Homo sapiens: one gene and its partner. The protein of the gene in region 1 purifies or fractionates together with the protein of each later gene. This does not show direct contact. Each region holds a gene or a part of one and is shown on either strand. Other genes may lie near its edges.

The links.
Region 2: the proteins of MTURN (region 1) and BTBD9 purify together in Homo sapiens (affinity purification with mass spectrometry; one large-scale study listed by BioGRID and IntAct). This does not show direct contact.

The regions. Positions count from the first base shown.
Region 1 is NC_000007.14:30,137,446-30,142,610, reverse strand, and holds part of MTURN (maturin), read right to left. Parts: intron 1-5,165. UniProt on the Homo sapiens protein: Promotes megakaryocyte differentiation by enhancing ERK and JNK signaling as well as up-regulating RUNX1 and FLI1 expression. Represses NF-kappa-B transcriptional activity by inhibiting phosphorylation of RELA at 'Ser-536'.
Region 2 is NC_000006.12:38,628,954-38,634,118, forward strand, and holds part of BTBD9 (BTB/POZ domain-containing protein 9), read right to left. Parts: intron 1-5,165.

The DNA.
Region 1 (5,165 bases):
ACCTCTGCTTGGTAATCAGTTTATTTAGCTAATGAACTATTCAGTGAGCTGAGAATATGTATTTCCAACAAATTCCCAGCTGACGCTCATGTGGCTGGTTCTGGGACCACACTTTGAGAACCATGGGCACAGCAGAACTTTGGCTAACTACATATTTGAAGGGGGTTGTGGGTGGTGTGACATTTAAATATCTTTCCGGGAGAACTACAGCAATTGCCATTACTGACTATAGCCAGCTCCAAATCTCAGGTTGGCCTGAGCTGCAGTGAAGTGGCTGTCATCGAACCTGGCCTGAGTGGTCTACTCTTTCCTACAGAAAATCCGATAAGCACTTTGATTTGAGTATAGGCCATCTGCGACCCTTCTTCCTGTGAAGTCAGGCCAGAGTTTATCATAAAAGCTTGCCCAGCTTAAGAGAATATAACTATGTCACCTGCAAATAGGAAAATGAGCACCTTCCTGTTTTGTACAATGTAGATCGGAATATCCAGTTTATCAAAAAGTGGTCTCCAGTCATTAAAGTAGTCCAACCCTACAGACATTTTTGGGGGAGCACAATGTGTGCACCCCTACTATTCTAAATCCTGGTGGGTATGCAGCTGGACTTCCTGGTGCTTAAGCAGGGTGGGGGTGGCAGGGGAGGTAAGAACACACTCCTGTGTCTCCTCCCTCTGGGGCCCTTGCTCTGGGACTCACTCTTACTGGAGTACTGAAGTGGGGGTTTTCTGCCACTCGGTACCGAGGGAGTCCATTTTGAATTGGTGTGTCTTAATCCAAAATGGATCCCTGGCCAGGCCTGGTGGCTCACACCTGTAATTCCAACATTGTGGGAGGCCAAGGCGGAAGAGCTGCTTGAGACCAGGAGTTCAAGACCACCTGGTCAACAGAGCAAGACTCCAGTCTCCACAAAAAATAAGAAAAATAGCTGGGTGTGGTGGTGCGCACCTGTAGTCCTGGCTACTTGCCAGGATGAAGCAGCAGGCTGCTTCAGCCCAGGAATTTGAGGTTACGGTGAGCTCTGATCACACCATTGTACTCCAGCGTGAGCAAGAGTGAGACCCTGTTTCCAAAATAAAATACCAAAACAAAACCCTGATTCTTGTCCTGGAAACAGATGGCAGAAAAAGATAAAAGCCACAGTCCACCACACGCCTCCCAACATATTTCTTTTTTTCTCTTTTTTTTTTTTTTTTTTTGAGACGGAGTCTTGCTCTGTCGCCCAGGCTGGAATGCAGTGGTGCGATCTTGGCTCGCTGCAACCTCTGCCTCCCGGGATCAATTGATTCTCCTGACTTAGCCTCCCAAGTAGCTGGGATTACAGGCGCCCACCACCACGCCCAGCTAATTTTTGTGGTTTTAGTAGAGACGGGGTTTCACCAGGCTGGCCAGGCTGGTGTCGAACTCCTGACCTCAGGTGATCCGCCCGCCTCGGCCTCCCAAAGTGCTGGGATTACAGGTGTGAGCCACTGCACATGGTGGGAAGAGCACAGCTGGCCATACCTAGGACTAGCCCGATCTGTGTGTCAGCCACTGACCCATTTTACCAGTGAGGAAATTGAGGCTCAGGGAGGTTAAGTAACTTGCCTGTGGTCACACAGGGAACAAGGGCAGAGCCAGAATGTCAACGGAGGAGTGTGCACCCTTTCAACTACACTCTGTGCGCAATGTTTAACCGGAGCCTCGTGTATTCATTTGTAAGTCACAGAAAATAATTATATTTACAGGGGGAATCTAAAGATTTCAGGGGACAACCTGTAGACTGACTCTCATTTAGCAGGGGCCCAATAAGCGATTATGCCCATCCACTTGAGCTTGTATTGACGTAACTACTCTCCTCATGACTACCACTCAAAGAATATACAAAGGACCTCTCATTTTCCCAGAAATAACCTCTCTATATGAACAGGCACAGCCAATGTGGAATGGCCTTATGTCTACTGAGCACATCACATGCACAGCTCTTCATTTCATCCCCACACTAATCATGTAATACAGGCATGACTGTCCCTATCTGACAGAGGAGGAAACAGGGTAGAGTTTAAATCAACAAGAAAGTACTTTCTCTCCACTATACCAGCACATAAGCGGGACTCAATCTCATTTAAATAAGTTCTATTTTCTTTATCCAAATAAGAAGGCTGTTATTTGATCACATAGTTAATAATAAAGATGTGTTCAGACCACAAATGGGGATACACACACACACACACACACACCCCTCTACAAACACATGTAAAATTAAATCACAGTCCTGCCATAAATAAAGCCTTTTTCTTTAATAATATCATGATTACTACCTTTGTTTTTGTGCTGAGGAGGGATTAAACTATACAAAATTTTAGAGTCCAACGTGTCTTTGGGCTGACAGGAAAGGCTGGGCAATCTGGGAAATGAATCCCTCCCTCTCTCCCACAATCATCAGGATCCAGGCCCCCAGATGGGCTGGGCAGTGCTCTTTGTTCAGAGACCTCATTTCTCGTGGCCTAAGACAAGGAAGGAACGCAGCTGGTGCTCCATGCCTAGGAGTGCCCCTCTGTTTATCTGGCATCCAAGTGGCTGCTGACACCCCATTCCAAGCCTACCAAGCCCCGAAGGACCTTCCAAGTTGGCAGAAAGGACTCCTTGGACCCCTCTGACCAGGGCCAGGAGCCCTCCCTTATCAAACCTGTAGAGCCAGGCAGGGTGGCCATGCCCTTGAATTTCCTCCACACACAGGGCACTAGCAGCTTTGTTTCACCCCAGGCCCTGATCATGGGGCCCACAGAGAGGGGTCCCAGGTAGAGGGACAGTTTGGAAAGGGTCGGCATGGATGGGATGGCCTGTGGAGCGAGATAGAGAAAGAGTGTGCAAGGGACCCAAAATGGAGGAAAAATAAACAGGCGTCCTGTTTACTAAACATGGGCCCCTGGAACTACTGGCCTGACCCCACCTGTGGGCTGTTCTGCATGGTGGAGAGGACAGGCCTCTGGTCTCAAGTCCTTGCTCTGTCACTTCTTAGTGGTACAGTCCTGGATGAATCTCTTAAACTCCCTGAGCCTCAGTTTCTTTGCCTATAAAGTGGGAATAATAATATCTACCTCAATGAATTTCTGTGAGGCCCAATAAGAAGCACTCCCTGAACCCAGTCTAGATTGGGTCCCATGTTGTCACTCCTGTGATGCCATGCATTAAATACAGGGCTATAGTTGAAGTTGCTCTACCACTTATTAACTGTGGAAAAGTTAGTAAAGTTTGCCATGCCTCAGTTTCTTCCTCTGTAAAACAGAGATAATTATAGAGATTATATAATTATGTGAGAGTACTAAAGTTAAATGAGTTGGCATATGTAAAGTGCCGAGAGCAGCGTCTGCTACATAGTAAACTGAACATAAGTGATGGCTATTATTATTATTCTTTGAAACTGAATTCTTGACATTTGACATGTCTTTTACACTAGACTATAATTTATTCATCCTTATAGATATGTACTGAGCACCCATCATGTATGGATGCTGCTCCAAATGCCAGAACACAGTGATAACACAGACAAGGCCTCTGCTCTCATGAAGCTTAGAGTCTAGTGGCAGTGGCAGAAAACCAAAAAGAGAATGCCAAGTCTAACGAGTGCTATGGGAAGAATAAAAGAGGGTGAGATCTAAGAACATGTGGTCAGGAAGGCTTCTCTTGGGCCTCAGGAGCATCGAGGAGCCAGCCGTGGAAAGATCTGGGGCAAGAGGGTTCTAGGCAGACAGAACGCAAGTGCCAAGGCCTTGAGGCAGGAATGCGCTTGGCACATCTGAGGACCAGCAGGGTCTGTGTGGCAGGAAGGTAGATCATGTGGGGGCTTGGGGCCAGGGTAAGGGCTTAGGTTTTATTATAAAAGATGGGAAGTCAATTCAGCTGAGGTGGGGGATAGTGGTGACATGATCTGGCTTATATTTTAAATAGATCCAAAATGACTGCTGGGTAGACAGTGGCTTAGAGTCAGTCTCCCCAAGCAGTCATTTTGGATCTATTTAGTACCTCCACTTCAGTACTACAGTAAGAGTGAGGTGGAGGTTATAAGCAAGGAGACAAATTAGGAGACACGATGAAAAATGACAGTGGCTTAGACTATCTAAGCTGCCCCTACTTTAGATACCTTTCTCAAACAACTCTGCTCAGGAGGTACTAATATTATCATCCCGATTTTACAGATGTAGAAACTATGGCATAGAGGCCAGGTGCAGTGGCTCACGCCTATCATCCCAGCACTTTGGGAGGCCAAGGTGGGAGGATCACTTGAGCCCAGGAGTTCGAGACCAGCCTAAGTAACGTAACAAAACCCTGTCTCTACGAAAAATAGAAAAATTAGCTGGGCGTGGGGTGCACGCCTTTAATCCCAGCTACTGGAGAGGCTGACGCACAAGAATCACTTGAACCCGGGAGGCAGAGGGTGCAGTGAGCCAAGATTACGCCACTACACTCCAGCCTGGGCGACAGAGCAAGACTGTCTCAAAAAAAGAAAAAGAAAAAAAAAGTATGGCATAGAGGGGTTAAATAACTTTCCCAAGGCACACAAATACGGGGAGCTGAGGTGCAAACCCAAGTAGTCTGATCTACAGCCTGTGTGCTTAACCACCACACCACACTGCTTCCTAGACAAGTAAAAATTGCCCCAGGAACATGAAGGCAGAGACCCTATTTGTATTCTAGATAGCACTGGCCTGGCACAAAGTAAACCCTCAATAAATGTTTGTTGAATGAATGAATGAATGATGTGGAAATACTTTTGTAAATTGAGAAATGCTCATGTAGACATTCTTATTGCTAAGTCCTTCAACTAATAGAAATTCCATTGATCTCACACTTTTGTCTAATGCTTAATACATTTTCCAGGGAAAAAGAAAAGAACTAAGGCAGGACACTTATTAGAGGCAAACAGTAGCTTGACAAACCTGGCCTGGGACAGATTCAAGAGGTCCGGCTAGGAAAACTCCCGAGGTTGGCATCTTGTCCATTAGAGCCTCCAGAACTTGGAGAAAGTTCCATTCTACCCAAGGAATCATCTGCCCACCCCCATCCTCTATCTTTCTATCTATTCTATTTAAATTGTCAGTTTACATGACACTTTCAAGCATTTTTCTCATGCAGATGGGAAAATATTTAAAATCTGGGTGGCCTCAAGAGAAAGGCCTGATACAAAT
Region 2 (5,165 bases), on another chromosome or scaffold:
CAAAGAATCAAGGGGACATGATAGACAGACACAGACCCAGCTTGAAAAGGCTGGTCAAATACGGAACAATATGAGTTTAAAAAAAAAAACAAAAACAATGATAGTAAAAAATTAAACCCATTGAATAACATAAGAATCCATGAGATCACTGAGATATTAATTAACTAGTTAATTAATGGGGGCAAGTCAACTAATAAATGTAAAAGGAGTGATGGAATTAGGAAATCTTCATTTGGCAACAATCATGACAATAATGGATTCAGCAAATAGTCATCAATGAAGCCTAAAACTAGTCGGTGAAAGTTTGAGGAGTAACAGGATATTTACATCCTCTCAAAGTATCTCCCAGAAGATACCATTTACAAAGGAAAGGCAGAAACTTTACAGTGGAGAAACCAGGCAGAATCCATCTTAACTAAGTGATCAAAATTAACATCACCAATAATAGAACAAATCAACATTAGCATCTTCAAATGAAGCACTGAGAAAAATACATCACATCTATATTACCGCCAAAACTGCATAATGTGGATCTAATCATAACCAGATAAACCTCAAGTGAGAGACATACTATTAAAAAAGTAAATAGGCCGGGCACGGTGGCTCATGCCTGTAATCCCAGCACTTTGGGAGGCCGAGGCAGGAGGATCACGAGGTCAAGAGTTCTAGACCAGCCTGGCCAATGTGGTGAAACCCTGTCTCTACTAAAAATACAAAAATTAGCTGGGTGTGATGGCATGTGCCTGTAATCCCAGCTACTAGGGAGGCTGAGGCAGGAGAATCGCTTGAACCCAGGAGGTGGAGGTTACAGTGAGCTGAAATCACACCATTGCACTCCAGCCTGGGCAATAAGAATGAAACTCCATCTCAAAAAAGAAATAAATAAATAAAAACAAAACTGGCCTAAACCCTTATATAATGTCAGTGTTATAAAGACAAGATTGAGGCACTATTCTAGATTAAAGGAGACCAGGCCAGGCGTGGTGGCTCATGCCTGTAATACCAACACTTTGGGAGGCCAAGGTGGGCGGATCACCTGAGGTCAAGAGTTTGAGACCAGCCTGGCCAACATGGTGAAAACCCCGTCTCTACTAAAAATACAAAATTAGCCAGGCATGGTGGTGCATGCCTGTAATCCCAGCTACTTGGGAGGCTGAGGCAGGAGAATTGCTCCCGGAAGACAGAGGTTGCAGTGAGCCGAGATGGTGCCACCGCACTCCTGGGCAACAAGAGTGAAATTCCGTCTCAAAAAAAAAAAAAAAAAGGAGACCAAAAGAAAAAAAGAAAAACTGAATGCACCACATGGCTGGTTTTTTGTTTTGTTTCACTTTGTTCTTGTGTGTTGGATTTTTATTGTTTTTGTTGCTCTAAAGGGTATTCATTGATAAGTCAATTGGGATAATTGATGAAATATGAATAAAGCCTATAGGTTAGCTACAACGATAGTATTTAATGATTGTAAAACAGTTAATAAGAGAATATCCTTGTTTTTAGGAAATGCACATTGAAGGATTGGGTATTATATCTGCAACTTTCTCTTCAACAGTTCAGTGGGGCAAAAGGAGAGAGAGAAGGATAAAACAAATGTGGTAAAATGTTAACATTTGGGAGATGTGGTGAAGGTTATAAAAGAATTCTTTGTACTATTCCAGCAATTTTCCTGTATGTCTAAAATTAGATTAAAATTAAAAACTAGAATAAAAGAGTTAAGCAGGTAATTTATACTTGTTAGGGGTCAGGATAGTGAAAGTTAATATCTGACATGAAGTGCCAAAATATAAACCTAACTGCAATATGTTCTGAAAAGGTTGCCTAAGCCAATTATGTCCTACATACACCTTCTAAAGAATGAGACTTGAAATAAAATGGATCTACTTAGGACCTTACTTGAGGATAAAAGTTAGTAAAGTACCCAAAGGACTGGATTATAAATTAGCAGACTCATCTAAGCCATGCAGCCCAATGTCACTGTACCATATGGAAATTGAAACACGTGCCTTCAGACAGTGGTTGAGGAAGCATTTTTCTTCTAAAAGTTTGGAAAGTGAATTACCTTACCTAGAAATGTTTGGTTCTATTTTAGATTAATTTAAAACCATTAAATATGAATACAATTGTATAAGAATAAATGTATAGAATAGAATAGGATAAAAATGAAAACATTCTGGCTGCATTAGTACTAAAGCTAATGTGATGGATATAAAACTTCAAGGAATCCACAACAAATCTGTAATTTGTGAAAACTTTCCTTAAAATTTAAAAACCACTACCTTTTCTTCAGAGCATTTCCAGAAAATACCATGAATATACAAGTCAGAAAAATTATTGCATGTGCTAAAACAGAGACAATCAACATCAACTGAAGAAATGGCTTCACGGGAAAAAGGATTGATGGTTGTTTGGAAATATGCCCACAAATTATTTGACTCTCCCCTCAAAAAAGGTGGAACCTAACTGCCTTCCTCCCTGAGTATGGGCTAGACTTAGTGCCACGTTATAACAAATCAAATATAGAAGGAGTAACAGTGTTATATTCAAAACAGGACATAAAAGGCACATGGTTTCCTCCTTGCTCTCTCTTGCATCACTTGCTCTGGATGAAGCTAGCTGACATGTTATAAGGATACTCATGCAACCCTATGAAATTTCTGAGGTCCCCTACCAACAGCCAGCAAGGAACTGAGGCCTCCTGTCAACAGCCATGTGAGTGTACCATCTCGGAAGCAGATCCTCCAGCCCCAGCCCCAGCCCCAGTCAAGCCTTCAGATGACTGCTATAGCAATGGTCAAAAGCTTGATTGCAACTCATCAGTGACTCAGCCAGAACTACCCAGCTACGCTGGTTCTGAATTCCTGACCCACAGAAATCATAAGATTAAAAAATGTTTGTTGTTGGCTGGGCACGGTGGCTCACGCCTGTAATCCCAGCACTTTGGGAGGCTAAGGCGGGCAGATCATCTGAGGTCTGGAGTTTGAGACCAGCCTGACCTACATGGAGAAACCCCGTCTCTACTAAAAATACAAAATTAGCCTGGCGTGGTGGCGCATGCCTGTAATCCCAGCTACTCCAGAGGCTGAGGCAGGAGAATGGCTTGAACCCAGGGGGCGGAGGTTGCTGTGAGCCGAGATCGTGCCACTGCACTCCAGCCTGGGCAACAAGAGCAAAACTCCATCTCAAAAAAAAAAGTTTGTTGTCTTAAGCAGCTAAATTTTGGGATAATTTGTTACACAGCAATAGATAACATAGAATTTGATTTAACAGTTATTCCATTTGCAGAATTATAAATTTATAGAAATATTTCTTGTAAAATTAACTGAAATTAACTATCATTTACAAAGATAGTTACAGTCTATATTTCCAGGAATGTATAAAATAGGACCAAAGAGTGACTTAGTCAAACTGCAAGGAATGAAAACCTTGCAAGTCAGAATAACTACACTGAACCATAAATAGAATGTATTAATTTTGTAAATAGGTTTAAAAATAAACACCTAAGTGGAGGAAATAAGTAATGTGCAGAGAAGGGAGATTAGCTGGGAAATCTCAGGTAAACATTGTTTGGGGTGAAGTTTTAAGGGATTTTTTAAAAGAGTTGACTTTACTAAAATGTAAACTTGAAAAATGTAAACTTGAACTGTACTTGAAAAAGTACAGTTCCTCCTCTAGAAAACTTGGCACCTATACATAAAGAAGTGGGGCTGGGTGCAGTGACTCACACCTGTAATCCCAGTACTCTGGGAGGCCAAAGTTGGAGGATCCCTTGAGCCCAGGAGTTCAAGAACAGCCTAGGCAAACAGTGAGACCCTGTCTACATAGAAACAAAAATAAATTAGCCAGGCATGGTGGCATGCACCTGTCATCCCAGCTACTCAGAAGCCTGAGAAGGGAGAATTGCTTGAGCCCAGGAGGTCGAGGTTATAGTGAGCTAGGATCACACCACTATACTCTAGTCTGGGCAAGAGAGCCAGACCCTGTCTCTATTTGAAAAAAATAAAAATAAATAAAAAGTGGGAAATCTGAATATTCATGTAAGATCTCCTGTGAGTCAACTAAAAAATAACTGGGGTCAAATACAGCACGTCTTCATAGGAGAATCAGCACTGGGGCCATTAATTATCCAGCCCCCATTCCCTTCCATCCCTAACTATATTATCAAATTGTCTTCAAACATTTAGGCAGTTACTAAAATTCTAACTTCCTCCAGTAACTTTTCCTAAAACAGTAGAAATGAGACTGCATTTCTACATCAAGATATTAACATGCTGAAGACCCATGGTGACATAAGGAATTGGCATGAAGTAAAAAGAACACAGGCTGCAGAGTCCACACCTGGGTCTGTACTGGAGCCCAGTCCCACTTCTCACTGGCCACAAGCTACAGACAAACAGTTCCCATTCTGGAACTCAGTTACCTTATTAGTAAAATGGAGATAATGTCAAATTGACAAGGTTGTCATTACAAGGATGAAACAGTATATAGAAAGGGCCTTGCATAATGTAGCCATTAGATAAATAGCACCTTGTTTTTAATTACTCTTTTGCTTATATGCATTATGCATATACTTCCCAAATCAAGAAAATAGGGACACAGACTGCCAGAATATTTTTGTGTCTCATATTCAGATGCAAAGGCAGCCCAGGAGGTTAATGTGGACTTATGACATGTTATAATTTCTGAAACATTACAATAGCTTATGAGTTGCTGTTAAAACTGAACACTTAGCTGCTTAAGAAGCCAGAGTACCTAGTCTGTAATCAATATTTATACAGTACTTATCGTATTCTTTTTATTACTCCAAATATGTTCTTTCTCCTCTATCAAATTACAAATTTGATTGCTAAAAAAAAAATATACATCTCTATACGCGTCATGGCCCCATCCCTATACTCGTCATGGCCCCTTGAATACATAAGGCTGAATGAATTTAACTTCAAGTCCTCAATGTCTCTTCCTTCAATATAATCTTAAGATTATAAAAGTCAGGCTCCTTCACCCTGACAATATGCATACATGTGTGCACATTCCTTTCCCCAAGTAAAACCAGAATTAGGTGCACAAGGCAATTATTGTTTTCTCTATGCCCAGCACTTCACACGATTTCTGGCACACTATAAATGCTTAATGAATGTTAGCTGGGAGATAAATGAGAGAGAACAAGCACCTAG